Regions from separate parts of the Homo sapiens genome. Here all the other regions are reported to be linked to region 1. The links are microRNA targets in miRTarBase. Many come from high-throughput screens and were not tested one by one. Region 1 holds a microRNA gene; each other region holds the end of a gene's coding sequence. Distances are from middle to middle.

Evidence for each region. The annotated mature microRNA hsa-miR-1233-3p reads UGAGCCCUGUCCUCCCGCAG and lies in region 1 at 3,021-3,040, shown strand. An mRNA with a match to its seed (bases 2 to 7 or 8) in the 3' UTR can be bound and repressed. Matches are read on the target gene's strand: a 7mer-m8 pairs with bases 2 to 8, a 7mer-A1 pairs with bases 2 to 7 and ends in A, and an 8mer does both.
Region 2: the mRNA of RAB42 is a reported target of hsa-miR-1233-3p. Seed matches in the 3' UTR shown: 7mer-A1 at 3,919-3,925 and 7mer-A1 at 3,755-3,761.
Region 3: the mRNA of AP5S1 is a reported target of hsa-miR-1233-3p. Seed matches in the 3' UTR shown: 8mer at 4,021-4,028.
Region 4: the mRNA of PROM2 is a reported target of hsa-miR-1233-3p. Seed matches in the 3' UTR shown: 7mer-A1 at 3,248-3,254.
Region 5: miRTarBase lists TEX9 as a target of hsa-miR-1233-3p. The part of its 3' UTR that is shown has no 7-base or 8-base seed match.
Region 6: miRTarBase lists ZNF585B as a target of hsa-miR-1233-3p. Seed matches in the 3' UTR shown: 7mer-A1 at 2,739-2,745.

Annotation. Positions count from the first base shown.
Region 1 is chr15:34,526,328-34,531,329 of GRCh38, reverse strand. MIR1233-2 (microRNA 1233-2) reads left to right here and starts at 2,959; the gene lies at 2,959-3,040. It overlaps GOLGA8B (golgin A8 family member B), which reads left to right. Exons shown (of 24, transcript NM_001023567.5): 15 at 1-61; 16 at 1,062-1,148; 17 at 1,256-1,363; 18 at 1,581-1,668; 19 at 2,056-2,312; 20 at 2,580-2,723; 21 at 2,858-2,958; 22 at 3,041-3,141; 23 at 3,253-3,408; 24 at 3,496-5,002. The coding sequence ends at 3,698.
Region 2 is chr1:28,593,586-28,598,587 of GRCh38, reverse strand. RAB42 (RAB42, member RAS oncogene family) reads right to left here. Exons shown (of 2, transcript NM_001193532.3): 2 at 3,139-4,894. The coding sequence ends at 4,471. Among named protein-coding and RNA genes, the nearest start is that of RAB42, 3.8 kb to the right of the region's middle. RefSeq lists an enhancer at 4,595-5,002.
Region 3 is chr20:3,823,717-3,828,718 of GRCh38, forward strand. AP5S1 (adaptor related protein complex 5 subunit sigma 1) reads left to right here. Exons shown (of 3, transcript NM_018347.3): 3 at 155-5,002. The coding sequence ends at 581. Among named protein-coding and RNA genes, the nearest start is that of AP5S1, 5.7 kb to the left of the region's middle.
Region 4 is chr2:95,287,694-95,292,695 of GRCh38, forward strand. It overlaps PROM2 (prominin 2), which reads left to right. Exons shown (of 24, transcript NM_001165978.3): 21 at 518-607; 22 at 790-896; 23 at 1,240-1,313; 24 at 1,531-3,609. The coding sequence ends at 1,303. Among named protein-coding and RNA genes, the nearest start is that of KCNIP3, 7.2 kb to the right of the region's middle.
Region 5 is chr15:56,426,844-56,431,845 of GRCh38, reverse strand. It overlaps TEX9 (testis expressed 9), which reads right to left. Exons shown (of 12, transcript NM_001395496.1): 11 at 4,107-4,241; 12 at 1,692-3,479. The coding sequence ends at 3,402. MNS1 (meiosis specific nuclear structural 1) reads left to right here. Exons shown (of 10, transcript NM_018365.4): 9 at 348-473; 10 at 2,653-3,122. The coding sequence ends at 2,745. Among named protein-coding and RNA genes, the nearest start is that of MNS1, 36 kb to the left of the region's middle.
Region 6 is chr19:37,181,533-37,186,534 of GRCh38, forward strand. It overlaps ZNF585B (zinc finger protein 585B), which reads right to left. Exons shown (of 5, transcript NM_152279.4): 5 at 47-5,002. The coding sequence ends at 3,695. Among named protein-coding and RNA genes, the nearest start is that of ZNF585A, 11 kb to the left of the region's middle.

The sequences.
Region 1 (5,002 bases):
AGGAGAGTTAGAGTGGTCTCTCTGTGCTGTCGCCGCCACACAGAAGAAGAAGCCGGATGGGGTGAGTCCAGTCACCTGCCCTGTCCCCTGGGAGCCCGGCTTCACAGATGGAGGAGTGAGCCTAAAGGTCCCTTCTGCAGGATGGAGTGTCCTGCCCAGAAGGCAGCATGGCCATTTCTCACTGCTTTTGTGTATGGTTGTTAGAGGCAGCCTGAGGCTGAGTCAGCTGCTGTGGGTGAGTCGGGGGGCGCGGTGGGGAGCGAGCACTGGATGCAGAGCTTGGAGGCCAAGTGCCTGCCCTGCCCTTACCTGGCTGTGGTCTTGGCCAAGTCCTAGGTGGGGTGTGGGGTATTGGGTACTTGTACTGTGAAGGTACAGAAGGGTACCTTTAGTATGTTCCCATTTCTGTAGAGAGAGGAAACGTGTGTGTGTGTGTGTGTGTGTGTACATAGTATGATAATATACATAAAACATGTCTGCAAGTGTTCGTAAACAACTCAGGAGAGAGCAGCAGGGTGGCTGGGAGATACTTCCCTTTGATACCTTCCGAGTTTTGGACTATGTGAATGTATCATCTTTTCAAAAAGTGAACAAAAGATTAATTTTCCCCTTCCTAACCGTGCCCCCACCCCCAGCAGAAAAATGGGCTTAGAGAATCTGATAGACCTGGGTGTTCAAATCCTAGCTCTGCCTAAGTGATCTTAGGCAAGCACTTAACCTCAAACACTCCATGTTTTTTCATCTACCCAAGAGAGGGCATCATAGTAACTGTCTCCTCTGGTGGTTGCGAGGATTAAATGGGATTGCTAGCAAGGTACCTGCTGAAGCACTCCATAAAGGTTCAAACAGTGGGAGTAATAACAATAGCAATATTATCTGATCTCTCTCCTTGTCCCTTCCAACTTCACTGAGTTTTTTTCAAAACCAGACCACGGGCTTGGAAATGCCTTGATCTTTACTGACCGAGTTGTATATTGAGCCTAGCCCTAGCCCTTTTAAGGGGCACTGTGTGGAATGGCCCAGGCTCCCCAGATCGAAACTTCTCACTCTTCACCATCCAGTTCTCGAGCCGCAGTAAAGCACTTCTCAAGCGGCAGTTAGAGCAGTCCATACGGGAGCAGATACTGCTGAAAGGACACGTGACACAGGTGAGGTTTTGCAGAGGGAGGGATGTGGAAGGAAGATGACCCCAGGTGGCCAGGAGCAGGTGAGGACCAGTGACGGCCCTTCCTAACTTGTGTGGCCATTCTTGCAGTTGAAGGAGTCGCTTAAAGAAGTCCAGCTGGAGAGAGATCAATATGCTGAACAAATAAAAGGAGAGAGGGCCCAGTGGCAGCAGAGGATGAGGAAAATGTCGCAGGAGGTGAGATCTGACCCTTCAGCCTCCCGCCCCACCCCCCCCCCACCAACAACTTAAGATAGGTCACTGGATCTTTCTGGGCCTCTTTAAAATGGGAATAGTGCAGCCAGAGGTGGTCCTGGGTCTGGGCTTTGTGGAGGTGGGGGCAGAGAGGGAGATGGGAGCCTGTCCAGCCACCAGCCCCTCTCTCCAGGGCCCTTTCCCCCTGTGCTTTGGGCAGGTTTGCACATTGAAGGAGGAGAAGAAGCATGATACGCATCGGGTAGAGGAGCTGGAGAGGAGCTTGTCCAGACTCAAAAACCAGATGGGTAAGATGGGGCTGGCATGACCTGGGAGCAGGACTGGCATCAGAGGGCTGTGGGGGTGGCTTAGAGTGCCCCAGGGAGGTGGGTGGATGGCAGGGCTTTGAGGCAGAGGGAAAGAGGTCTGTGCCAGGAGACAAGTCTTGTCATCTCCCTGAGCCTCAGTGTCCCCATGAGCAAAGAGGGCCCGTTGTCAGCCACCCGCAGTGCTCTCTATCTGAAAGTGGTTTGGAAGACTGGCTACCATCCGGGTGCGAGGGATCGTTAGCAGTGAAGCCAAGTTTGGGAGCCTGAGAGGAGCTGTGCGCCAACAGGAGGGTGTTTTGTTGTTTTTTCTGTTTTGATTTTTGTTTTGAGAATCCAGAGGCCCTTATGATCTGCTTCCTTTCTCAGCTGAGCCACTGCCCCCGGATGCCCCAGCAGTGTCCTCTGAGGTGGAGCTGCAAGACCTGAGGAAGGAGCTGGAGAGAGTGGCAGGAGAGCTCCAGGCTCAGGTGGAAAACAATCAGTGCATCAGTCTCCTGAACCGTGGGCAAAAGGAGAGGCTTCGCGAGCAGGAGGAGAGGCTTCAGGAGCAGCAGGAGAGGCTTCGGGAACGGGAGAAGAGGCTTCAGCAGCTGGCCGAGCCACAGAGCGACTTGGAGGAGCTGGTGGGTTGCCCCACCTGGGGAGCCTGCCCTCCTCCCTAGCCCTCCAGGCCTTTGTTTCCCCACCTGTAAAATGGGGCAGTGTAGCCCTCACATGAAATATTACTTCCAAAGGCACCTGTGAGCCAGAGCTTTGCTCTGGTGGCTGTGGGAGAGAGGAGAGTATTTTTCTAACTTGGCTCCACCCTTCCCGGTGCCATGGGAGGCAGACACCAAGTTCTGGGGTCTCCAGCTGCAGTGGGTGGCTGCTGATTGCTTCTCTCTGTCCAGAAGCACGAGAACAAGAGCGCACTGCAGTTGGAGCAGCAAGTAAAGGAGCTGCAGGAGAAGCTGGGCCAGGTGATGGAGACGCTCACCTCGGCCGAGAAGGAGCCAGAGGCAGCAGTCCCAGCCTCAGGGACTGGGGGCGAGTCTGTGAGTGGGGAGACCCTCCGGGCCCTGCAGGAAGTCATGGAGAAGCTGGAGGGGAGTGAGTCCTAGCATGGGCCAAGAAGGGCAGGGCTGGGGCAGGTCGCTGCTGAGATGTGACCCCATTATTTTGGCTCCAGAGCGGCCTTATGGACCTCCTGGAGGAGAAGGCGGACCTGAGGGAGCATGTGGAGAAACTGGAACTTGGATTCATCCAGTACCGGAGAGAGAGATGCCATCAGTGAGTGGGAGGCCAGGGCACGGCAGGGGGAGCTGCAGGGCTATGGGAGGGGCCCCAGCGTCTGAGCCCTGTCCTCCCGCAGGAAAGTACATCGCCTTCTAACAGAGCCAGGGGACAGTGCCAAAGATGCGTCACCGGGAGGAGGCCATCATCAGGCTGGCCCAGGACAAGGAGGAGAGGAAGGTAGGGTGTGCAACATCCCTGTGGGGGTGGGGGTGGGGTGGGGGTGTGGGTGGGGTGGGCATGAGGGTGGGCGCCAGCAGCGGCCTGACAGCTGAGCACCCGTCCCTTCAGGTGAAGCTGCTGGAGCTGCAGGAGATGGTGTTGCGGCTTGTGGCAGCTACAGCGAGGGGCACGGCAAATTCCTGGCCGCTGCCCGGAACCCTGCTGCTGAACCCAGTCCAGGAGCCCCAGCCCCCCAGGAGCTCGGGGCTGCCGACAAGCATGGTGGTGAGTAGAGCCCCCAGGCGGGGTGAGCAGGCAGGAGCGGGGGGCGGCTAGCACTCCACTCAGATCCCCGCCTCTCTCTCTCCAAAGATCTTTGTGAGGCGAGCCTCACCAACAGCGTGGAGCCTGCACAAGGAGAAGCCAGGGAGGGTTCTTCCCAGGACAACCCTACTGCACAGCCAGTCCTGCAGCTCCTTGGTGAGATGCAGGACCACCAGGAGCACCCAGGCTTGGGCAGCAACTGCTGTGTGCCATGCTTTTGCTGGGCTTGGCTGCCGAGAAGAAGGAGATAAACACCACCATCATCAAAGAGCTGCTCAAGAAATTTTTAAAAACGAAACAAAGTTATGGGGTTAATCTCCTACACAATTCATTTACTTCATTTGAATGTTAGAGCTACTCATGATTATTTGTGTTTCTAATTTATAGTTTAAGTTTATTTGTAAAAAGTTAAAAGAGAGTGGGTCTCTGTGCCTCTCACTGATGTTCACTCTGGCATCCTTTAGCATTTTTCTTTTTTCATTTCATAATTGTAGGTCATTAGCATGCATATCGAGTTTGCCCTTACGTGGTGGGAGTTCAAACACACAAAGACCCACTCTTTGCACAAAACTGTTCTCGCTGGTTTGGAATAGGCTCCCGTGCTTTTTTAATGTTATTGCAGCATGGATGTTCATTACAGAATTCAGATAAAATTTGCTAATGTTCTGCTATGATGTTTGATCTCATCTTAATCACAGTGAGCTCTTCCATAGCTCAATATGCGGTTTGCCCTCAAGTGTGCACTGTTTATTACTTTGTAATATGCCACTATGAGTACTGACACTTAGAGCTGTTTAAAGGCCGAGAACTGGAAACAGCCTTTCCTCCATTTTCTGTGTATTGGTGATGGGAGTGATAACCTTTTGGGGGAGCTTTCTAAATCTCGCAGAAGAGGAAAGTGGCCTGCTCTGGCAGGTATGTGCAGGATACAGTGTGTTTCATCTGTTCCGGTGCCAAGAATGAGCACTGTACTGTGGCAGTTCCCTTTGGATTTGTATGTGCTCTGGGCTCATGAAGATATTGCATCGTGAGCTGCAGCAGTTGCACTCTTTTTCAGTGACCTAAAAATGGCTTATTTCCGAGGAATGAAAGGCTGCCATCGTTGGCTGTGGATGTGGAAAACCTTTCCTAGCTTAGAGCATTTGTATCTACAATACATTTTAAAGTCAGAGTTCGTGTTCCCTGTTTTAATCACATGACTACCTGTCCCAGTACACGAAAGGGCGCTGGTTGGCATTCTTCTTAATGTATTTAGTAAAGATCATAAGACATCCTTTAAGAGTTTAAATGTCTCTGAAACAGGCATACAGGCTCTAGTCAAGAATGAATTAGAGTGAAGGAAAGCTGTGTGACACCTGGCATTCCTCTCTGTTCATGGAGCTTCTTTGAGGCTTGAAGTTTGATTTTACTATCTAGACCTCTCTGGCTAATACCTATTCTTCAACCACCTCGGTTACTCTGACATAGGAATTTACTTCTTTTCCTTGAGTGGAAAACACTTTAGAAAATAATAACAAACATTATTATAAACTAATATATGTGAGAGTACTTAGTT
Region 2 (5,002 bases), not on the chromosome of region 1:
CCATCCTGGCTAACATGGTGAAACCCCATCTCTACTAAAAATACAAAAAATTAGCTGGGCGTGGTGGCACGCACCTTTAGTCCCAGCTACTCAGGAGGTTGAAGCAGGAGAATCGCTTGAACCCCGGAGGCAGAGGTTGCAGTGAGCCGAGATTGCGCCACTGCACTCCAGCCTGGGTGACAGAGCAAGACTCCGCCTCAAAATAATAATAATAATAAGCCTCTGACGGACCAGGCACTTTGGGAGTGGCTCATGCCTGTAATTCCAGCACTTAGGGAGGCCAAGGCAGGTGGATAACATGAAGTCAGGAGTTCAAGTCCGGGCTGACCAACATGCAGAAACCCCATCTCTACTAAAAATATAAAATTAGCCAGGTGTGGTGGCGCATGCCTATAATCCCAGCAACTAGGGAGGCTGAGGCAGGAGGATCGCTTGAACCTGGGAGGCGGAGGTTGCAGTGAGCAGAGATCGTGCCATTGCACTCCAGCCTGGGCAACAAGAGTGAAACTCTGTCTCAAAAAAAAAAAAAATTGATGAAGCATCTGGGCGCAGTGGTTCACGCCTGTAATCCCAGCACTTTGGGAGGCCAAGGCGGGTGGATCACCTGAGGTTGGGAGTTCGAGACCAGCCTGGCCAACATGGTGAAACCCTGTCTCTACTGAAAATACAAAAGTTAGCCTGGTGTGGTGGCACACACCTGTAGTCCCATCTTCTTGGGAGGCTGAGGCGGGTGGATCACGAGGTCAGAAGATCGAGACCATCCTGGCTAACATGGTGAAACCCCATCTCTACTAAAAATACAAAAAATTATCTGGGCGTGGTGGCGTGCGCCTGTAGTCCCAGCTACTCAGGAGGTTGAGGCAGGAGAATCGCTTGAACCCAGGAGGCAGAGGTTGCAGTGAGCCGAGATTGCGCCACTGCACTCCAGCCTGGGTGACAGAGCAAGACTCCACCTCAAAGTAATAATAATAAGCCTCTGACGGACCAGGCACGGTGGCTCATGCCTGTAATCCCAGCACTTTGGGAGGCCGAGGCAGGCAGAGTACCTCAGTTCGGGAGTTCGAGACCAGCCTGGCCAACATGGTGAAACACTGAAAATACAAAAGTTAGCCTGGTGTGGTGACACACACCTGTAGTCCCAGCTTCTTGGGAGGCTGAGGCAGGAGAATCGTTTGAACCCAGGAGGCAGAGATTGCAGTGAGACGAAATCGCCCCACTGCACTCCAGCCTGGGCGACAGAGCAAGACTCTGTCTCAAAAAAAAAGAAAGAAAATTGATGAAGGAGACCAGGTACAGTGGCTCACACCTGTAATCCCAGCACTTTGGGAGGCTGAGGCAGGAGGATTGATTGAGGCCAGGAGTGTGAGACCAGCCTGGGCAACATAGTGAGACCCTGTCTCTGCAAATAATTTAAAAGTTAGCTTTGTGAAGTGCACCTGTAGTCCCAGCTACTTGGGAAGCTGAGGTGGGAGGATCACTTGAGCCCAGGAGGTCGACATTGCAGTGAGGTGTGATTGCATCACTGCACTCCAGCCTGGGCAACAGAGCGAGACCCTGTATCTAAGGAAAAAAAAAAAAAAACGATGAAGGAATGAAAAGATACCCTAAAGCAAGTAATTTTCCTCTCCTGGCCCCAGCTTTCTTATCTGTGAAATGGGGATGATTGTGCCAACCTCACCACGTCACAAGGATGAATAAGGATGTTTAAAAAGAAGAGGCAGGTCATGTGCAACAACATGGATGGAACTGGAATTATAAGTGAAAAAAGCCAGGCACAGAAAGACAAACTTTTTACATTCTCACTTACTTATGGGAGCTAACAATTAAAACAATTGAACTCATGGAGATAGAGTAGAATGATGGTGACCAGAGGCTGGGAAGGGTAGTGGTGGGGGGAAGTGGGTATGGCTAATGAGTACAAAAACATAGTTTTTATTTTTATTTTATTTTTATTTATTTGTTTTTTGAGATGGAGTCTCGCTCTATCGCCCAGGCTGGAGTGCGGTGGCACGGTGTCAGCTCGCTGCAGCCTCTGCCTCCCAGGTTCCAGTGATTCTCCTGCCTCAGACTCCGCGGTAGCTGGGATTACAGGTACATGCCACCATGTCCAGCTAATTTTTGTGTTTTTAGTAGAGACAGGGTTTCACCAATGTTGGCCAGGCTGGTCTCGAACTCCTGACTTCAGGTGATCCGCCCACCTCGGCACTCAGAGTGCTGGGATTACAGGCGTGAGCCACCACATCCAGCCAAAAATGCAGTTAAATAGAATGAATAAGATTTAACATTTGATAGCACAACAGGGTGACTACAGTCAACAGTAATTTATTGTACATTTAGAAATAAAAACGTATAACTGGATTGTTTGTAATACAAATAAAATATAAATGTCTGAGGTAATGGATATTCCCCACCCCCCACAAAATAAAACAGGTGAATTTTTATGGGTTTAAAAAAAAAAAGAGGCAGGACCAAGTGCACAGGAAGACCCCTCAGCCCCCTCTCCATGGGGAGGAAGCTAAGAAACTCATTCTGAAAACCTTCTAAGAACCCTAGGAGGGAGGGATTATCAGTCTCATGTTACTGACTGAGGAGGAAACCAAGGCTCAAGGAGGCCAAGTAACTAGCTCAAGGTCACAAAAGAGAGTTAAGTGACTATGCTTTTTTCTTTTTTTATGAGACGGAGTGTTGCTCTGCCACCCAAGTTAGAGGGCTGGAGTGCAGTGGCGGGATCGTGGCTCGCTGCAACCTCTGCCTCCTGGGCTCAAGCAATTCTCATGCTTCAGCCTCCTAAGTGCTGGGATTACAGGCATGAGCCACCACACCCAGCTAATTTTTGTATTTTTAGTATAGACAGGGTTTCGCCGTGTTGGCCATACTGGTCTCGAACTCCCAACCTCAAGTGAACTGCCTGCCTAGGCCTCCGAAAGTGCTGGGATTACAGGCGTGAGCCACTGCACCCAGCAAAGTGGCTGTGCTTTTTGCTACAGCACAATGATACCCACTAAGCCCTACACCTGCTGAGATTCGGCCTAACATAAACAGTGTCTCTTCCATGAAGCCTTCCCTAATTGCTCCCAGGACATTCCCTGCCTAGCAGTTCCCATCATAGGTTAGGTTACCAGGAGGCAGATTCTGAGATGGAGATGAGTGTGCAGATGTTTATTAGGGGATATTCTTGAAATGGATACCTGTTTGGGGAAGAAAAGGAAGCAGGATTGGGCAAGGGGATAACTTGGCTATGATGTCACAACAGTGTCCTCAATGAAGCCCACAGAGACTGATAAAGTTGGTTTTGACTTTCAGAGTTGTCCAGAGCTGGGGCAAGAGGGAGTCCTTTAAGGCCCCCCAGGAGATGAACTTTGGATACAAGCTGCCCTGAAGGGAGGGCCTTTCCCAGAGAGTGGGGCAAGCTGAAGTCCATCATCCAGTGGCACTCCAGCAGCTGGGGAGAGGGTTGATGGGTTCCCCAGCCAGAAAGGGGGATCTTGGTGGCTCATCACAGTGGCCACTGTGTGCCCAACATAGTTGCTACACATTCATGTTCATCCCAGCCTCCAACATCCATTTTTCAGCCCCTGGGCCTGGTCGGGGGGGCATTGGCCAGCAACCCTGGGTTTGACGTCACATATTAATCCCATGCCCAGAATCATTTTAGCCTGAGGACATAAGAAGCCTCCAAGCCAAGCTCCCCCTGGAATTCCCCGCACCTGCCTTTGCCCATGCATCAGCTTCCTGACGCTGGCTTCTCAGTGTCTGAGCCCAGGAATGCTGCCAGAGTGGCCACATCGCAGCCAAGAAAAAGGGAGTGGGAATGAGAGCTTTTGTCATTCAATTCACAGCGCGGCAGGCTCTGGGTGAGCACATCCTGTCCACTGTCTCATTTGTGGTCACCACCTCCCTTCAAGGTGGGATCTTTTATGAGCCCCATCGATAGATAGGGACACTGAGGCTCAAGGACAGGAAGTTGCACATCTGGTCTCTCAGGCCTTTCTTTTCTTTTCTTTTTTTTTTTTGAAACAGAGTCTCACTCTGTTGCCCAGGCTGGAGTGCAGTGGCGCAGTCTTGGCTCACTGCAATCTCTGCCTCCCAGGTTCAAGCAATTCTCCTGCCTTAGCCTCTGGAGTAACTGGGATTACAGGCATGCACCACCACGCCTGGCTAATTTTTGTATTTTTAGTAGAGACAGGGTTTCACCATGTTGGCCAGGCTGGTCTCGAACCCCTGACCTCAGGTGATCCACTGTCCTTGGCCTCCAAAAATGCTAGGATTACAGGCGTGAGCCACCATGCCTGGCCATCAGAACTTTCTTTTCTGTAGAAAGCCTCGACTCCAAAATCCAGGAAGCATGACTGTGTCAGGATACTGTTTATATGAACCCTTCTGTCATTTGTCCTCCAGAGAGATATTAACACTCCCCATCCCACCAGGTGGGCTAAGGCTGGGACTGCTTTAACCCTTTCTCTCCTAGAGTCAACACTGGCATGGGCCTGAGTGCTGCTTCCTGCTGGGGGACCTGGGGATTTGGGTCTTGTGGATGAGCCGGACACCCCCCCAGCCCTCTTCTAGCTTGATGTCCCCCTGCTGCAGGGCCTGCTGGATAGCATCAGCGAGGGTGTCAAAGGCCAGGTCCACATTGCAGTTGTTTTTAACCGAGGTCTCCACGAAGGCCATGCCCAGGGAGGCAGCTAGCTCCTCGGCCTCCTGGGCTGAGACACAGCGGGTGCTCTGCAGGTCACTCTTGTGGCCAACCAGCAGGAAGATGACCTTGTCCGGGCCCTGAGTGGCCATGACCTCCTGGTGCCAGTCTTGGATGTGTTCAAAGGACTTCCTGTTTGTCACATCAAAGACCAGCAGGACACCCACCACATTCCGGTAAAAGGACCTGGTGATGCACCTGGGGAGGCAGGGAGGTGGAAAGGTAAGCTGGGAGAGGCTGATGCCTCCATGACACCCCCAGAGGCAGGACCTCCTCCCCCTGGGATCCACAGAATGCCTCACACCC
Region 3 (5,002 bases), not on the chromosome of region 1:
TTCTGTGGCCCTGGGCAGATCACTTAGTCTCTCTAGGCCTCAGTTTTCTCACTTGAGATATGGGGATGATGGTAGCTCCCAGCACCAGGGTTGATCATGAGGATGACAGAGTTGGTGTGTGAGCCCACCAGCCTGACCTGCCCACTCTCCCCAGGCAGGTAGAGTCAATGTGTCGGCTGCAGCAGCAGGCATCTGGCCGGCCCCCCATGGACCTGCAGCCGCAATCCTCAGATGAGCAAGTGCCGCTGCACGAGGCCCCACGTGGGGCTTTCCGCCTGGCAGCAGAGAACCCTTTCCAGGAGCCACGGACGGTGGTGTGGCTGGGCGTGCTCTCGTTAGGCTTTGCCCTGGTGCTGGATGCCCATGAGAACCTGCTACTGGCTGAGGGCACGCTCCGGCTGCTGACACGCCTCCTCCTTGACCACCTCCGGCTGCTGGCGCCCAGCACCAGCCTTCTGCTGCGGGCTGACCGCATTGAGGGCATCCTCACCCGCTTCCTGCCACATGGTCAGCTGCTTTTCCTCAACGACCAGTTTGTCCAAGGCCTGGAGAAGGAATTCAGTGCCGCTTGGCCCCGCTGATTCCTCGTTGGGATGGTGCTTCTGAGGGCAGGCAGAGGGTAGACACACAGCCAGATGAAGCTTGGCATCTCCCTCCTACCCAGCAGCTCTGATGTGCTGCTATACCAGGACAAGTGGGTGACACAAGCCTGCAGAAAGGGGGCTGGGCAGAGGGTGGAGGAGGTCCTGCCTGTCCTCAGGTTAGTGGAACCACAGAACTTCCTGAGCCTAGAGCTGCTGTGTTACTTAGACCGCTGCCGTGCGGCAGCCACGCTTGTCCTTGAACCCACCTTCCTCCATCCCTGCCAGCCGATAGTGCTAGGGTGAGGAGCTGCCTGGAGCTCACCCCGCTCTTCTTCCAAACCCACAGTCAAGGCCAGGCGCGGTGGCTCACGCCTGTAATCCCAGCACTTTGCGGGGCTGAGGTGGTTGGACCACCTCAGGTCGGGAGTTCAAGACCAGCCTGGCCAACATAGTGAAACCCCATCTCTACTAAAAATACAAAAATTAGCTGGGTGTATGGCGCCCACCTGTAATCCTAGCTGCTCAGGGGGCTGAGTCATGGGAATCACTTGAACCTGGGAGGCAGAGTTTGCAGTGAGCCGAGAGTGCGCCACTTCACTCCAGCCTGGGCAACAGAGTGAGACTCCATCTCAAAAAAAAAAAAAAAATCCCACAGTCATCGAAACACAAAAGGGGTCTCAGACTCCCCTGAGGGTGGAGGAGCTGTGCCTGCATGCTGGCAGGCCACAGCCCCTGGCTTTGTGCCCACTTAGGCAGTATTATCAACAAGGTCCTGCTCAGTGTCCAGCCCCCGCTGAGTTCAGAAATGCATCTGCCAATCAGCAGCAGGATTCTGCAGCTCCTTTTGTGCCAAGCCCGTTCCCACCAGGCAGGCTCGAGATAAAGTCATCACAGCCTTCCCTCATCTGCAGGGAGAGAAGTTGCTGTCAGATGAATGTGAGCAGTCTAGCCTGGATGACATATTTTTCGTTTTGAATTAAAAGCACTGGCTGTGTGATTTTACCCTCTTTCTGTGAGTTTGATGCGTGCATCCTGCTCCTATGAGTGAGTGCCTCTCTGGATGGCCCCAAAGCTGCGTGTCTGAGCTTTCGTGGTCAAGGATCCCCCTAGGAGGCTTCTTGGGATGCCTCCATCTCTCATCCCCACCTCACCTCTGTCTCCTTAGAGGCCTCCTTTGGATGGTGGCACACATTTCTCCACCAAAGTATATGTCACAGGTGGCAGGTGGCTGTGGCAGAGCCGTCTGAGAAGCAGTGCTTGGGCTGAGAATTGGTGCGAGTGGTTTATGTGGGGTGGGCGGTGATCCCGGGAAGCAGGAAGGGGACACAGTCCTCGTGAATGCTTGTCAAGCCTATTAGGACTGTGGTAGGGAGCTGAGTGCCTCTAGGGGGCTGCACACAGCAGTTGCCTCTGAATTACCTCACCTGAGAGGTGGCGGCTGTGGGTGTTTGCCTACTGCCTTTAGTCAGTGGTTACAGGTTGATCCCAGGGTGCATACATTCCCTGGCTCTTTCTGCCCCTGAGAAAAAGCCTTCAGGCAATGTGGAGCTGGGCCTGCCTGCACCATGTTGAGTCCCAAAGGGATATGGGTGGGGTACCAAAAGTCGGTGGTTAGGAGGTCTTCAATCAGCAGCTTCTAGTGAAGGTTTAAACTTACTCAGTTGGGGGCGGGGGGTGGGGGAAAAACCACTTCAGTTTACATTGATTTTCATGATCTTCCTGTTACCAAGGAAGGTGAGGCTTTCTTGGCAGAACGAGCCTCCTAGGTGCTCAGCTCTCATGCTTGCCATCCATCAGTTGCCCTTTAGCATCCAGGATGGACCCAACTACACCCACTTTGGAGGCAGCACTGATGATTAGCCCTTCCAAGTCCATGGCCAAGGCCACCAGCCATGCCAGGCCTTCTACCACCACTGTCAACATAATTGGGATGAGGCCACCTTTTCCATTTTATGGTGCCACAAACCACCTTGACCATGAAGACCTAAAGGGATGTTACTCTGTGTGTGTGGCCAAGTCCCACCAGTGGAAATGTCCCACAGGCCTCTAGTAGGGACACCCCTTCCCTATACATTCTGTTCTCCTGGCCCACCCCTCACCCCAGGCTGGCGGTCCTGGTGGATTGGCTGTGTTCTCAGGGAACAGGCCATTTTGTCCTCTATGGAAAGGCTCAAGCTTACTGATCTGAATTCTTTCTGCCTTTTTTTCAAACGGAACTTAAGGAAGAGGTTGAGACTCTGCTCCCCTGGGAGCTGTGGGAAGTTGAGGTTAGGCGTGGCTGGTGGCCTGGTTCTCATGAGGTGGGGCAAACTGATGGACAAGAGAATAGTAGAGACTGAGACCACACCGTGGGGCTGCTGAGCTCCAGTTCCTGTCCAGCTGGACCAGGGTTTTCTTAACCAGATGAGCTTGCCCAGCACCCTTCCCACACTTCACACTTCTGCCCCAGCCTCTTGGGCTGGGTTTCCACCACAATTTATGCTCACCATATATTTATCGAGCCTCCCTTGGGCCTGATGCTCTGCTGGGTGCAATGCAGGATACAGAATGACCCCAAAGTTCCAGGAGAGACAGAGCTAAGGCCAGGTGACTGCAGATGACTGCAAAGCAGCAATGGTTTGAGCATCCCTGAATTGCTGCTCACAAGTGCTTTAAACACCTAAAGGAAGAAGGGGCACTTCAGTGACGAAGGCCAAGTGAAGGAGCCAGGATTTAGAACTAAAAGTGAGATGGCTATGGAAGCAAACTTGCCTCCCTCTCCAAGCCTCTTCCCTTTCTTCTCCCTGCCCCAGGAACCCTGGCCAAACCACATATCCCTCAGCTTCTTGAGAGAACTAGAGACTTTGAGCAGCTAGTAGTGTTACCAGTGTACCTCCACAAACACTCCTGGGACAACAGATGATGACAGGAGGGCAGTAGAGCCCAGAGAAGAGAGCTTACCTGGAAGGAGGAAGAAGTCACAGGTTTTGTTTTGTTTTGTTTTAGGCGGAGTTTCTCTTTGTTGCCCAGGCTGGAGTGCAGTGGCGCAATCTCGGCTCATTGCAAGCTCCGCCTCCCAGATTCACGCCATTCTGTCTCAGCCTCCCAAGTAGCTGGGACTACAGGTGCCTGCCACCACGTCCGGTTAAGTTTTTCTATTTTTAGTAGAGACGGGGTTTCACCGTGTTAGCCAGGTTGGTCTACATCTCCTGACCTTGTGATCCGCCCGCCGTGGCCTCTCAAAGTACCGGGATTATAGGCGTGAGCCACCACGACTGACTGGCATGAAGTCACAGGTTTTAAGGCAGGAACTGGCCTGCATGTATGTGGGTCACTGATTGGGTCACATACACTGCATGTATGTGAGCCCTGGGATGGGATTGGATCATCTTGTCTCCTTTAGGGCAGGGTGTTTTTTTCTAGCCCTGTGGTGCTGCGCACTGTCCAGCATCCCCCCAGGGCTCAATGTTTTCTTTTCTTTTTCTTTTTTTTTTTTTTTTGAGATGGAGTCTCACTCTGTTGCTCAGGCTGGAGTGCAGTGGTGCAATCTTGGCTCACTGCAACCTCTGCCTCCTGGGTTCAAGCAATTCTACCGCCTCAGCCTCCCAAGTAGCTGGGATTACAAGCATGTGCCACCATGCCTGGCTAATTTTTGTATCTTTAGTAGAGACAGGGTTTCACCGTGTTGGCCAGGCTGGTCTCGAACTCCTTACCTCAGGTGATCCACCCATATTGGCCTCCCAAAGTGCTGAGATTACAGGTGTGAGCCACCATGCCTGGCCTCAATCTTTTCTTTTAAACAATTATTCCTATATTTTATTGTAATGCAGTTAACCGTGTTTGTCAGATTCAATACTCTGTGACCCGTTAACCAAGTCTCTGTATGTTTATTACTGCAATTCAAGTGGCCGTGACCGTTTTCTTAAATATACTTTATTTGTTTAGTGCAATTTTAGGTTCACAGTAAAACTGAGCAGAGGGTACAGAGAGTTCTCATTTACTCCCTGTCCCCACACATGCACAGCCTCCCTTATCACCAACACTGGGCACCAGAGTGGTCATTTGTTACAACTGATGGACCTTCATTGACACGTCACTATCACCAGAGTCCATAGTTTACATTAGGGTTCACTCTTGGGGTGGTACATTCTATAGGTTTGGATGTATTTTCAGTGACATGCATCTACCATTATAGTATCATACAGAAGAGTTTCCCTGCCCGAACAGTCCTCTGCTGCACCTGTTCATTCTTCCCTCCCCTCAACCCCTAGCAACCATTGATCCTTTTACTGCTTCCATAGTTTTGCCTTTTCCAGAATGTTGTGTAGTTAGATTCATACTGTATATGTAGCCTTTTCAGATTGACTTCCTTCACTTAGTAATGTACATTTAAGATTCCTTCAAGTCTTTTCATGGCTGAATCATGAGCTTGACAGCTC
Region 4 (5,002 bases), not on the chromosome of region 1:
CTCCAAAATGTTTCATCACACCTGGCCTGCAGGTCCTTCCCTGGGCTGGCCCTTTCCCCAGCTTGTCCAAGGCCAATCCTCAAAGCCCACCTCCCGATGCAGACCCTTGCTGAACACAGCCTCTGCAAGCTGTCTGGATGCCCACACTAGGGCAACAGTGGTCTGGTTTTACCCTGAGTGTGTCTGTGTGTCTATGTGTGTGTGAGTGTGTGTGTATGCATGCACACACATGTGTGCTTTCAAGCACTGTGGCTTGACACACAGTGCTGGGTCATAGTAGGCCTTAATCCAGGCTGGTGAACAGATGGAAAGGGGAGGGGCCCAGCGAGGAGTCTGTAGAGTATGTCCGCATCTGTCTGTACCTGCCTCTCTGCATGTGTATACAAGTGTGCGGTGGCCCCAATGGTGTCCCCAGGCCTTTCTGTGTCCCTGTCAACCACTCTCCCTGAATTGAATATGGGTGTGCGCCTGTGGGTCCAGGTGTCTCTGCATCACCTGCCTCATGTTGGCGCCACAGGTGACTCAGCGCATTGCCACCTGCCAGCCCCTCTCCGGAGCCCTGGACAACAGCCGTGTGATCCTGTGTGACATGATGGCTGACCCCTGGGTGAGTGCCCCAGCTCATCGGGGCTTGTTCACCAAGTCCCGGAGCCTTCCTGCTCTCCAGGGAGGGCCGGGTGAGCAGGGTGTGAAGCCAGGCATGGCCTCTGCCCCGGCTCTGATGACAAGGCAGCTGGGTGAGGCTGGGTGCCACGTGGGTTGGTGAGCCGACCTCACGCCTTGTTGCAGAATGCCTTCTGGTTCTGCCTGGCATGGTGCACCTTCTTCCTGATCCCCAGCATCATCTTTGCCGTCAAGACCTCCAAATACTTCCGTCCTATCCGGAAACGCCTCAGGTGAGGGGCTGCCAGGGCTGCAGGCAGCATCAGGGGCCAGGGAGGTGTCCTTTCAGCCGCCAGGGTCCCCTGTCACAGCCCCTCCTGAGACCTCCCAGGCAGAGGAGGCTCATGAGCGAGCCCTGAAGAGCCACACTCTGAGGAGCTCCAAAGCCAGGAAGTTCTCCCGTATGTCTGCCCCTTACCCTTCTTGCTGCATCCATTTGGGCGCAGCTTCGTGGGACCCTTCCCATCCCCCACAGGGCTTCCGAGGAGAAACCCTCAGGGCTCTGGGTTTGTCCCTGTGTCAGGGCTGAGGGTCTGGGGGGAAGGGTATGCTCACTCTCTGTCTTTGACACTGCAGCTCCACCAGCTCTGAGGAGACTCAGCTCTTCCACATCCCCCGGGTTACCTCCCTGAAGCTGTAGGGCCTTGTGGGTGAGTTTTCCCCAACTCGCTTAATTGCTCCCTGCCAGGGATTAAGGGAGTGGGGTGGGGAGGGGCTGGGGTCTGGGGTTTCCAGGGCCTAGGAGGGCAGGAAGGCTTGGGGACATGGTGGAGTCTGGGTATTGGGTGTGGCCCATCCAGCAGTGGGGCTGACAGCCCTGTTCTCCCCTCCCTCCCCTTCACCCGTTTCCTTCTTAATCCCTGACAGGGTGAGGTGACCCTGAGGCTGCCTGTCCTCCCCTTTGATTTAGCCTGGGCCACAGGACTTCGGTAGCTCTTGCCCCAGAGCCCAGGCTGGCATCCAGGCCTGGACTGTCCCCAGTTCCGGCTTACCTGGCCCCACCTTGCCTGCTCCTTTCCACCCCTTTCTGCTCACGACCCCCATCATTCACGCTCAGAATCACATGGGACTTCTGTGCAGCTGCAGAGCCAGCAAGTCCCTCCAGGTGTCACCCCTTACCCCCATGCTGGTGGCATCCTCACAGGAAGAGCCTGTTCTCCACCTGCTGGAGCCTGGACCCTGGGGTGGGACAGAGGCCTCGTCCAACCCCACTCCCCTTCCCGTGTGTCTTCCCCCTGCCAAGCCTCCCCCTGCCAAGCCTCCCCCTGCCCCTCTCTGAGCCCCTCGCCCCCCACACCGTCCTCATCTGGCCTCCCCCCTGGCCCCCACTTCCCTCTTATGCCCTTCCTGGCCCTTTGCTTCCTCCCTTAGTCCCCTCTTCACCATATCTCCACTGCTACCTTGCTGGCCCCAGAGACCACCCTGCCCAACCAAACCACTCAGGTAACGCCACTAATCAGGCAGGGGCCACCATGGCCTAGGTCTGGGCTGGCTGCAGGCCCTGCCTCATGGCCTCTGAGCCCTCCACTGCCCCAGGGCCTTGGGCCCTCTGCAGATCTCATCCAGGATTTATTGGTGTCCAGTGGGGTGAGGGAGGCCTGTCTGAAGGCCGAGCCTCCCTGCCTGCACCCAAGTTAGAAATGGGGGTACCAGCACTTAGCTTCTCTCTGAGTGCTGGCTCCCAAGGAAGGGACCTGGGACCTGGGCCACAGTGGGGGCTTGCCCTTACCTCTTCAGAAGGAAGCATCTTCCACAGCCCCCACCCAACTTTCTTAGGAGTGATCTGGTGGCCAGAACAGGATTTTGCACGGCCCCTTTTATCCTGCGCATGTGGCCTAGGGTCATCCCCAGCCCATCCCTGTGTCAGCCCTGAGTGCTGGACACTGCGTTCCAGAAATGAGGAAGAGGAGAGAGAAGAGATGGACAGACCTCAGATCCATTAAAGTGTTCTCACTTCCCTGAGACTTGGTTCTGGGTCCTTAAAACCAGGTTTCCTAGGCTGGGACCCTGTACATAGTTGGTGTTTAATGAGTGTTTATGGAGAGGAGAGTTCTAAGGTCACCTCTGGCTGCAGGCATCCAGGGATTATTCCAGCAATCTGCAGGTAGGGAGTGGGTCCCAGCCTGGGAGCCTGCTGTCAGGAGCAGGCAGACCTGGACTCACAGCCTGGCTGTGATGCTTGTTCGCTCAGCTTCTCCATTTATGAGATGGGGAGAATAGTCACAGCCTCCTCAAAGGGTTGTGAAAATCAAATGTGATAATTTGTGGAAAGCCCTTAGCAGTGGCCTGGCACAAAACAAATGCTCAGTGGATGGAAGCTGCCTATTATTATTGTCGTTGTTGTTGTTTGCCATGACTGCTCTGGGCCGGGGGTAGAGCTAGCATCCGGGCATGTACGAGGGAAGAGGGAGGCAGGCCTCTATTCAAAGGCAGAAATTCCTTTAAGATTGTGGTCTGCTGGGTTTCAGGGAGTGTCTGTGTTGTTTGTTTTTGTTTGTTTGTTTGTTTTGAGACAGGGTCTCGCTCTGTCACCCAGGCTGGAGTGTAGTGGTGCAGTCTTGGCTCACTGCAACCTCCACCTCCTGGGCTCAAGCGATTCTCATGCCTCAGCCTCCCGAGTAGCTGGGACTACAGGTGTGTGCCACTATGCCTGGCTAATTTTTGTATTTTTTGTAGAGACGGGGTTTTGCCATGTTGCCCAGGCTGGAAGTGTCTATGTTTAACTGCATCTTATAAACCAGCAACAAGTTTTCTACTGGGAATTAGAATGGTGCATACACAATGTATTATTATCACTGTCAGATGAGCATGCTTGAATGTAGCATGACTGCCTCTTTTTGCTTTTCCTAGAGGTTTTTTTTTTGCTTGTTACTCATCTGTTGACCTACCTGGGGGAAGTAGCACCCTTGCATTTCAAAAATAAAATTGATGGCATTACAAATGGAATAGAAACCATTTTTAAAATATTTTCAGTTCTCTTTCAAAATTACCTATTTTATCTTTTATATATTTGAACATATTAAGCATAGTTATTTTAAAGTTCAGTTAGTCCCTTATATGGAGCCTCCATGAGTCTGTTTCTAGTGCCTGTTGTTTCTCTTGTTTTTTGTTAGTTTTGTCCTGTCTCCTCCCATACTTGGCAATGTTTTAATTGAGTACAAGTAATTTCAGGTCTAGGATGGAGTTATCTTCCTCTATGAGGATTATGTTTACATCTGGCAGGTGGCTGGGGATGCAGTGAGCCAGATCTCTTTCATCTACTTGTAGGGGATGAGAGGATTTGAGTCACTTTAAGGGCTGACCTACTTCTGTTTCATTCATATTCATAGGGTGAAGCCCACTGGGGCTCCAACCCAAAGCATGAAACATTTGCCAGGTAGCCTTCCTGTTGGTGGGCTTTGCAGTGTCTTCTAGAATCAGCAGACCCCCTACAGAAAACGTAGTCCCAGATGCCATGCATATGTCTCTGAGTTGCCTTCTTTTCCCAGATCTTGGCCTTGTAATTCTTCACTGCTTTGTTTCCTGCCCAATACTCTCAATTAGACTTAAATATATATATATACGTACATATATTTATTAAATATATATATATACGTACATATATTTATTAAATATATATATATATAACTTTAAAAGCTGTTCAAAATGTCCTCCCCCGCCCCACACACACACGCAAATTTTGAGCAGCTTTTTAAGTTGTCCTGAACTGGGAATTTGGTCCAAATTACCCAGTCCACAGTTATTAGAAGTAGTCCTAAAAAACTGACTTTGACGTTCCCATTATATATTGGGAAAAGGCTGCCACTCTTTGAATTTAGTGTTCAGAAACTGTGGCCCAGCTAATTGAACATTGTCTTTTGAAAGGAGTTTTGTTTAGAGAGCAGCACGGTAATACTGGTTACCCGGGGATGGGGTGGCACTCGGCAGTTGGCAGAGAGAAAGAAATAGCCACAGAGAAAAATAAATTACCGATTTCTCTGGCTTTTAAAATGCTGGAATCCTAAAATGCTAATGCTACTTTATATGTGAAACAAAGCCCCTTCGAGGTCACAATCTCTCTCTTCTGGCCCATGACTGTCTCTGAGGGAGCAAATTATCATCTGGTTGAGCAGAGGAAGCTCCAGGAAGTTACATAGCTGGTTCAGGGTCTCAGAAGTTGAAGCCCAGCCAGGCTTTGGAAGCAGGTCCCCTGGTCCTGGTGGCCCTGGAGGTTTCTTCCTGGAGGCAATGCCAGTTCCCATTCCCTGTGGGCATGTGGGAGCGAGGCCCTATCTCCAAGGTGACTTGAACCAAGTGTCCTTACTGTCCCTGTGGCAGGGATGACAGATTGGGGGTGCTA
Region 5 (5,002 bases), 22 Mb from region 1:
CTGTAAACTCTTCAGCATCTGGTATATGGTAAGCATTCAGTAAATATTTACTGTATTAGGCAGTCACTCCTTTGAATATTTTTTCCCTTGGTAATGAAGACACTTTCCTGAAAATATTTGTTTGCCTCCTTGTAATTTTAAAGGAATAATGACAGTAAAAAATACATAGATATGTGTACAGACATAAAATATATATTTTAAAAATATATATTATCTAGAATCTTTTGAACTTAGTGTCATAAATAGTTCATCAATTTTATCTAATTCATTGCATGAGTAGTTTTATTTGAAAACTTCGTATAAGATTAATGTACTTTGTGATAACAAAATTTGATCTGCATTTCCAGCAACGTGAACTAGAAGAGTGGCAGTTGCAGCAAAGGCGGCAAGGATTTATTAATGCAATTATTGAAGAAGAAAGGCTAAAACTTCTTAAAGAGCATGCTACAAACTTACTAGGCTATCTCCCTAAAGTAAGTGAGATTTATCTCAAGTTGTAATCTTCATGACCTGTAATAGTGAAAAAAACATGGTATTTGGATTTTAGAGTGCCTTGGTTTTGCTCACTTCTTGCTCGGTTATGAAGCAGCAATGGGATCCTCCTGTCCAGGCACTGAACCTCTCTGGGCCCATTTCAGTATATCTAAAATGATTGGTCTTAGCACATTATTAGATGTATGAGCTTGATTTACTGAATTTGTACCTTATTTATCGCCCAGGCTGGAGTGCAGTGGCAAGATGTCAGCTTACTGCAACCTCTGCCTCCCGGTGATTCTCCTGCTTCAGCCTCCTGAGTAGCTGGGATTACAGGCGTTTGCCACCACACCCAGCTAATTTTTGTATTTTTGGTAAGGACAGGATTTTGCTATGTTGGCCAGGCTGGTCTTGAACTCTTGGCCTCAGGTGATCCATCTGCCTCAGCCTCCCCAAGTGCTGGGTGGGCCACCACACCTGGCCTGAGTTTGTATTTTAGAGTTTCTTTTCTCCCCTTTTAGTGTAGGAAATCTAAAGCTACCCTAGAACAACTGTAGTACTTACATGCCAAAGATGAGAATGTGTATGAAAACATTGTCACTGGTAACACCAGTAATAGGCACATGGTTGAACTGAGCTTGAGACTACCCTAGAACTGTAGTACTTACATGCCAAAGATGAGAATGTGTATGAAAACATTGTCACTGGTAACACCAGTAATAGGCACATGGTTGAACTGAGCTTGAGACAGATCTGCTCTACAGTAGGAAGTTATAACTAGTTAAACTTGATTTTTAAAATTCCAGAAGATAGTGAATTTTAATGTATACCTGAGACACACTGTGACTTCAAATAAAATAGTAACTGGCTGGGCATGGCAACTCATGCCTATAATCCCAGCACTTTGGGAGGCTGAGGCAGGAGGATCACCTGAGCCCAGGAGTTCAAGACCAGCCTGGGAAACATGGGGAGATGCCATTGCTACAAAAAATAAAAAGTTAACTGGATGTGGTGATGCACGCCTGTAGTCCCAGATACTCTGGAGGCTGAGGTTGGAAGATTGCTTGAGCCTGGAAAGTTGAAGCTGCAGTGACCCATGATCTTGCCACTGCACTCCAGCCTGGGCAACAGAGTGAGACCCCGTCTTGTCTTAAAAAAGTAATAACAGTTTCATAGGCCACATAAACATCTAGACTCATATAAATAAGATCGCCATCTTTCAGCTATAGAAATGCCATTTCATATTTTATTCAGTAGAATCAAGTGCATATTTATTTTATTATATTCACTCTGGTGCTAAGGAAGGAAAAAGATATATAGGTAATTACTGCCTGGCCACAGGACTTGATAGTCTAATTGGTTAGAAAGGATTAAGGAATACAAAATGATGTATTAATGATAAAATCCATATGTAATTAATACATTTCATAAACTAAATTATAAATTGTAGGAATGTCTTTCTTTGGGATTTGATATTTTTGTAGAGGAAATAATTGTGGAGGCAGCAGGAGGGATTAATAAACTTGATATCCAAAAATGACCTTTATCCTTTAGGTCCTAATGGTGCCAAATGACTTCAGTTATCCCTAAAATTCTTTATTCTTTAGATTGCAATTTAAGTAAATATTTAATTTTGTTTTAAAGAGCCTTTTGCAGTATACTGTAGGGGAAAAGAAAAATAGAACAGTGAAGAATTCCAAAGGGTTTGCTTAAATGGCTTAACTCCAAACCTGGATTCTTTTCTGCAAGATTGACTGTTTGCTGATTAGCCATAGAACTGAGGCATGAAGAACTAATCCCATGCATGAATCTACTGAAGCTCACCATTATATCATATTATAGAGCTATTTAAAGAAAAGGGTAGGGTACAGTATAGATGAAGTGCCTTCCTATCTAGGTAATCCAAGCAGTAGAACTTGTAGAAGAGCTCAGATTCCTATGAAAAGCTCCTACACTAGAGCTGATAAATCAGAAAATTGGGTCAGTCTAGGAATATTCAATATATATGTAAAGTCTTATTTTTTGAAAAGTATTGATTTTTTTAAAGTTTCATTAATCTGTTGAATAGATTTCATTACCTTGGAGATAACTTTACTAATCTTATGTCTGTCAGTCTTAAAAGCATTTAGTGAAATATTCTGGTATTCAAAAGTAACCCACAAAGTATTTTTCTCGTAGGGAGTATTTAAAAAAGAGGATGATATTGATCTGCTTGGTGAAGAGTTCAGGAAAGTATATCAACAAAGGAGTGAAATTTGTGAAGAGAAATGATATCATCAAAATTGGGTAAAGCATAGATTTTTTGCATGTTACCACTAGATGTCAGCATAACTTTTGTTTTACAGTTCAGTGGCATTAGGTATCCATTGTCTGTTTGGATTTTGTAAATCATCACTGAATTTCATAACTTGTAAACAATTATCAGATACAAATTAATTTTAATCAAGCTGTTATTTTTGTACTGATAATTTCAAAATCCGATTTCTACAACACTACAGAGCACTGTTTGCATCCCCATCCTCAAGACAGTATATTTACCTTGACTAATACAGAACTCTACCCCAAAGTGAACTGCCTTCTGTCTGTGTTTACGAACTTTACTTACTTGATTTAGCCAGGGAAATAAATATTTGGAATTTTCTTTTAAAGCATCTTTTTTGGTCTACTGTAAGGGAGGAGAATTATAAATGAAAAGAGTCAAGAATTTTATTATCTGATGTGCTTAATTGTCACGCTAAGAACTTAAAAAACAACTCAAAAAGAGCTAATAGCTAATCTCCTAAATCTAAAAAGGGAATTCTTTGAAATTATTTTGCTTTCATAATCAAATATATTACTTATGAAGAATAAAAATAATTCAAACCACTACAATAAGTAAAATGGGTATCCATCACATACTGTCATAGAGACTAACTGAAGTAGATCACTTATGAATTTCCCCATTCAAGTGCTTTCATAAATTCCTCCTCAGTGAAAGATAGCATCTTGGCAGCTTCAATATGCATCTGTTAAAAAAAAAATCAATATTGTCTGATTTAGTATTAAGAGTAGGCCACCAAACAACAGGAAGTTTGTAAAAATGTGTGGATAATATATTGTCAGAATATAAGTTCTGTTGTAGGAATGTATACTCTTAATTCCAATAAGCATGATATTTGAAATGGTATTGTCCAACAGTAGTACTGAACCAACTTACTTTTAAGATAATAATAATTCTATAATATTTTAAATACCTGACCTTTGCAAAGAAGGAAAGTGTCAGAACTATGAATTTTTAGAGAAAGCAGCAATAGTGGTTTGGAAGTGATGTTCGCTCTAAGGTTTGAAGAGGCAAACAGTCCCCTAATAGTCATTCTTTAATTTGGTACTTTCTGTAGTTGAGAAGTACCTATACTGTATTTTCCAGTCCCATTTTCTACACTAACTTACTTATGTGAAAATATCCACTTGCTTAGATGACACATATATCTCACTATAAATGTTAGATTTCATATGATTTCATATGTATGATGCATTTTATATGAAGTTCAGTGCGTAAAGATGTCAAAAACATACCTAAAGTGAAAAATGCTAAATTTTTTAGTAAGAAAGTTACAAATAATATGATGATTTAACTTTAATGATAGACTCACCTTTTGCCTTTTTAAAACATCAATTAATTTTAACTGTTTCTTGAACCCTATCATTAATTCTCCTTTTTGTTTTTCTAGCTTCTTGTTTTCTGATTTTAACACTTCAATTTTTTTGTGTTCTTCATTTGCTATGTCCTACACAAGGAAAAAAAAGTGCCATATATTTTTAATATACAGCCTCAATGGAAAGAATTATAGACTATCATCACAACAGTAATAAAAAGTACTTTCTTAAACTGAAATATAAAATTTTTGTAGATAAAAATTGCTTTCCATTACCGAATTACTGGAATTTGATAGCTTTTAGTCATGCTCAGGTATTTCCCATTTTTAAAAAATGTTTTTAAAATAACTCAGTTCTAATTCCAGTAATGGCAAAGTAGCTTGTATTGAACCAACATAAACTCTGGATTTATGAATTTTCAAAAATAATATATTTGAAAACATTTTAAAAACGTTTAAAAAGTATATTTGAAGGTGTAGATGAGTAATCAATAATAAGTAGAAACTGGAAGCGATATGATCCTTGAAAGAGCAGAAATACTGGTTGAGATCCACATTCAACTAGCTTCTTCTAAAAGCACTTTCCAGTTTGTGGGTTCACAGAGGTAAGAACTCAAGCAAAAAGTAGTAGTCTTATTGGACTGAGGAGTCAGAGAGCAGGGCTGCCAAGGTGGTACAAAATTCTAGAAAAACAGAGCCCTCAAAACATGCATACGTATTTCCCTCAAATGCTTGGCAGACATCTAAATACCATTTAGAGGGTGAGACTCCTAGGTACCTGTGAAAGGAAATGGCTGTGGCCTTTAGCTAAGCAGAGAATTTACCCACTTCCCATGACAAGCGGGAGACCAAGTTTGTAATCTTGGTAAAAATGGACTGGATAAGCTCTTTAG
Region 6 (5,002 bases), not on the chromosome of region 1:
ACCTTAAAATATTACAGTCATGTTCACACAAAAACCTGCACACAGGTGTTTATAGCATCTTTATTCATAATCAACAAAACTTGGAAGCAATTAAGGTGTCCTTCAGTAGGTGAATGGATAAATAAGTCATGGTACTTCCAGACAATAGCATATTATTCAATGAGAAAAAAAAAAAAAAAAGAGCTAGCAAGCTACGAAAAGACATGGAAGAAACTTAAATCCACATTACTAAGTGAAACAAATCAATCTGAAAAGGCTGCATACTTTATGGTTCAGAGGCAAAATTATGGAGACAAAAGAAAATAGCCAGGAGTTTAGAGGAGTAGGCGAAACACAGAGGATTATTGGGACAGTGAAACGGCTCTTTATCCTTCTGTAATAATGCATACATGTCATTATTCATTTGTCTCAACCCACAGAATGCACATCAAGACTGAACCCTAATTAAACCATGGACTTTGGCCGATAGTGTCAATGTAGTTTCATCAATTGTAACAAATGTACCACTCTGAAGGGGGATGTTGATGATGGGGGAGGCTGTGTATATGTGAGGGTAGGGGATATATGGGAAATCTCTGTACCTTCTGCCCCATTTTGCTGTGAACCTAAAATTTCTCTAAAAACTAGTCTTTTATATAAATGGGCATACATATACATATATATGTCAGCACTAAAATATCACGTTACAATAAATATAAAGGAGAAATTATTGAAAGTCATGTACAGTGAAATGTGTTTTCCTCCATATTTCCTGGAATTCATGAGGAGTGATACACTTAGGAGTAAGGTAAAATGGGAATAATGAAGGGGACCAGACCTTGTTCTAGGGTATGTTAGGAAGGAAGAGGTGATCTCCAGGCACCCTCCTGAGAGTCAGCTGACATTGTCCTAAGTTGGGGATAATGTTGTATCACAAAATATCCAAAACTGAAGGAAGAATAGTGAAGCTTCAGATACAGTGCTGGATGAGGTGAAGGGAGGTAATGGGTGAGCAGACATTGGTCTAAGATGTTGAGCAGCATGTGATGGGCCATCAGATACTGTGAAGAAGTGAGGAAGCAGAGCTAATGATGGCTCAGTAGACATTGATCTAAGGTGAGGTAATGGGATGTGTCACCAAGCACTGCCCAACTAGGGCTTGGGAATTAAAGGGGCATTGTGGCCCTGCTTCTTTGACTATGTTCTATCCTTTGGGCCCCATCTTCACCTCCCCATACTGCCCTTCTTAAAGGTGAAACCATCTTTGCAGAGCCCAAATAGTTCCCACTCCCAGAACTGCCAATAGACTGGCCCCAGACGCCACCCAGCAACTGTGCATCTAATCAGATCATCTGTCAGCATCTGTAAGGCCACTGCTGCCTATCTAGGGCAAGATACCTAATATCCAATGAAGATCCACCCAAGTCTGCTCTAGTTCCCTGCTATTGGCTTCAGGCACTCCTCTCGGGGCAGGATGAGCAGGTGTGTGGATTGGGTTCTGGAGTAAATGCGGCTCTGTCGAGTTGCAACTGAGACAGGACAGCGCTGTGCATGCTGAGGAAAAATGAGCAGGGAGTCTTTTGCAATCATGTTGGAGCTGTGGGATTCTGGAATCATGGCAGGAAATCCTGGAAGCAAGCATCCACATGGGATTTCCTGTACCTGTTTTCCCTTCTTTAGCATCAGACCAAAAGGTTCACAATGACTTTTTAGCTTTAGGGTTGAGAAGGGATACAGCCCAGGTACAGACTAGAGGTGAAAAAGCCTGGTGTGTTTTAGCCAAGTTGGTTCTCCCTATTAGCGCTTCTTATGCTGCAACACAGAAAAAAATCAGACAGAAGTCACGCAACAAGCATGGGTCAACTCTCCACAGGTGCATTTATGGAATGCCTGCTGTATGGCAGTCATGGGTCTAGACTCATAGTGGTGAACAAAAGGGAAATATTTTCTAGTGTAGAAGCCACAGAGAAATGAGGAAAATACACCAGGCAGCATGGTGGAAATTGCTAGGGAGAAGAATAAAGGAGGAAGGGTAAGGGGCTGGAATTTTAAACCAGGCAGGCAGGGAAGGCCTGTGTGGAGGTGTCATGGAAAAAAAGACATGACGGACAAGCCACAGATAAAATAAAGAATTGTGCTCTTTGCAACGGGCACTGCAAATACAAAGGCCCTGAGTCAGGAACTGATGTTTGAGGCACATGGCGGGGAAGGTCCTTGTGGGGTGCGTGGGACGAAGATGGACACAAGTAGACAGTGAACATATGGTGGGGTTGGTTTTCATATGAGTTATCAATTTCATATGATTTATGATTTATCTCATATCTCATATAATGTAAGATAATGATTTCATGACTTATCAACTTATGAAAGTCAGATCATTAAGGAAAGTAAAATGCTGGGCTTCAACTCAGTCACAAGTAAATTAAAAAAAAAAAAGAGGCAGGCAACTGAGTGAGAAGAATTGTAATAGCAGAAGGAAGAATTTAAGTTCTCCCAGATGACCTGAAAATCCTAACCTCAAAGGCTTTCTTGAGGGTGGTGGGAGTGTACAAAACACTGTGCTGGGCCGGGCGCAGTGGCTCACGTCCGTAATCCCAGGACTTTGGGAGGCCGAGGCGGGCGGATCATGAGGTCAGGAGTTCGAGACCAGCCTGGCCAGCATGGTGAAACCCCCGTTTCTACTAAACATACAAAAATTAGCTGGGCGTGGTGGCACACGCAATCCCAGCTACTCAGGAGGCTGAGGCAGGAGAATTGCTTGAGCCCGGGAGACGGAGGTTGCAGTGAGCCAAGATAGCGCCACTGCACTCTAGCTTGCCCGACAGAGCAAGACTCTGTCTCAAAAAAAGAAAGAAAGAAAGAAAGAAAGAAAGAAAGAAAGAAAGAAAGAAAGAAAGAAAGAAAGAGAAAGAAAGAAAAAGAAAGAAAGAAGGAAAGAAAGAAAGAAAGAAAGAAAGAAAGAAAGAAAGAAAGAAAGAAAGAAAGAAAGAAAGAGAAAGAAAGAAAGAAAAAGAAAAAACACTGTGCTGGGTGTCAAACACAATGTGCTGAGAACCTGTGGGGCTCAGAGAGAGTCCTGGCAGATAATGAAGGGGACTGTAAGTCTTTTTCTATGACAATGGGGACTCAACATACGCTCTGAGGTCTGTGTCTGAATACACAGGGAGTTTGTCTTATTGCAGTATCTCTTGCTTGATAGAAATACTCAATGGGGAATTGGATATGCACAACTGTGTTCGATTCAAAAGAAGAAAATACCCACAATTCTACTAGACAGTGTGTTCTGGAACAAACAACTCACAGAAGGATTCATCACTATCATATATATTATGTTGTCTTACCATTCAAACTGTTGGCACTATACCTAATCCACAGTAAACAGGATTATCATTCCCATAATATGATCTTTCTTATGAAGAATTTGGTAACAGTATTCTATTGTAGTTTTCATGAGAAGGCTTTTCCTATTCACCAAATTGACTCGGTTCCTTGTCAGTATGAATAATGACCCAAGGTTTACTGGGGATGGTGACAATGTAGGAAGGGTCCCTCGCCTCATTCAGTGCCTTCTCAGAGGCCCTCTCCAGAACAGCCATGTGTGACATTCTGATGTGGTCATTTCTATTTACAATAATATACATATTTTTCTGCTGCATGCGTGCAACAGTGTACAATCAGACCCAACCCTCAGGGGGGTTTTCTCACACTGTTTCTCTCAAGCGTGGCTGCTCTGATGAACACTGAACACTGATTTCTGAACGAAGCCTTTCCCACAGATGCCACACTTGTAGGGTTTGTCTCCAGTGTGTGTTGTCTGATGTTTATTCAAATTGGACCTGTTGCTAAAGGCCTTCCCACACTCAGCACACACGTAAGGCTTCTCTCCAGTGTGAATTCGCTGATGCACTTGGAGCTGTGATTTTTTAGTGAAAGACTTCCCACAGTCACTGCACTCATAAGGTTTCTCTCCAGTATGAATTCTGTGATGTGTAATCAACTCTGACTTCTGTCGAAAGGTCTTCCCACATTCAGAACAAATGTAGGGCTTTTCTCCGGTATGAGTTTTCTGGTGCTTACTGAGATTTGACCTGCCACTAAAGGCTTTCCCACACTCGGCACACACATAGGGTTTCTCTCCTGTGTGAACTGGCTGATGCACCAGGAGCTGAGACTTGGAGGTAAAGGACTTCCCACAGTCACTGCATTCATAAGGCTTCTCTCCAGTATGAATTCTTTGATGAGTAATAAAGTTTGACTTGCGGATGAAAGCTCTTCCACACTCAGTGCATACATAGGGTTTCTCTCCTGTATGAATTTTCTGATGAACAATGAGTATTGATTTCTGGTTGAAGGCTTTCCCACATTCGTGGCATTCATACTGTCTCTCTCCAGTGTGAATTTTCTGATGTATATTAAGATTTGACTTCTGAGTAAAGGCTTTTCCACAAGTATTGCATTCATAAGGCTTCTCCCCAGTATGGATTCTCTGATGTGTAATCAAGTCTGACCTCTGGGTGAAGGCCTTTCCACATTTGGAACATATATAAGATTTCTCTCCTGTATGAGTTTTCTGATGTGTAATGAGATTTGACCGGTTGGTGAATGCCTTCCCACATTTATTGCATACATAGGGCTTTTCTCCTGTGTGAATTCGTTTATGAACATGGAGTTGTGACTTGGAAGTAAACAATTTCCCACAGTGACCACATTTATAAGGTTTCTCTCCAGTATGAATTATTTGATGTGTAATCAAGTGTGCCTTCCGGATGAAGGCCAGTCCACATTTCATGCATATATACGATTTTTCTCCTGTATGAATTCTCTGATGCACTGTGAGTGCTGACTTCTGAGTGAAGGCTCTCCCACAGTCACTGCATTCATAAGGTTTCTCTCCAGTGTGAATTCTCTGATGAATAATCAACTCTGACCTGTAGGTAAAGGCCTTCCCACACTCAGTACATATGGAAGATTTCTCTCTACTTTGAATCTTCTCATGTGTAATGAGGTTGGAATTATTGCTGAA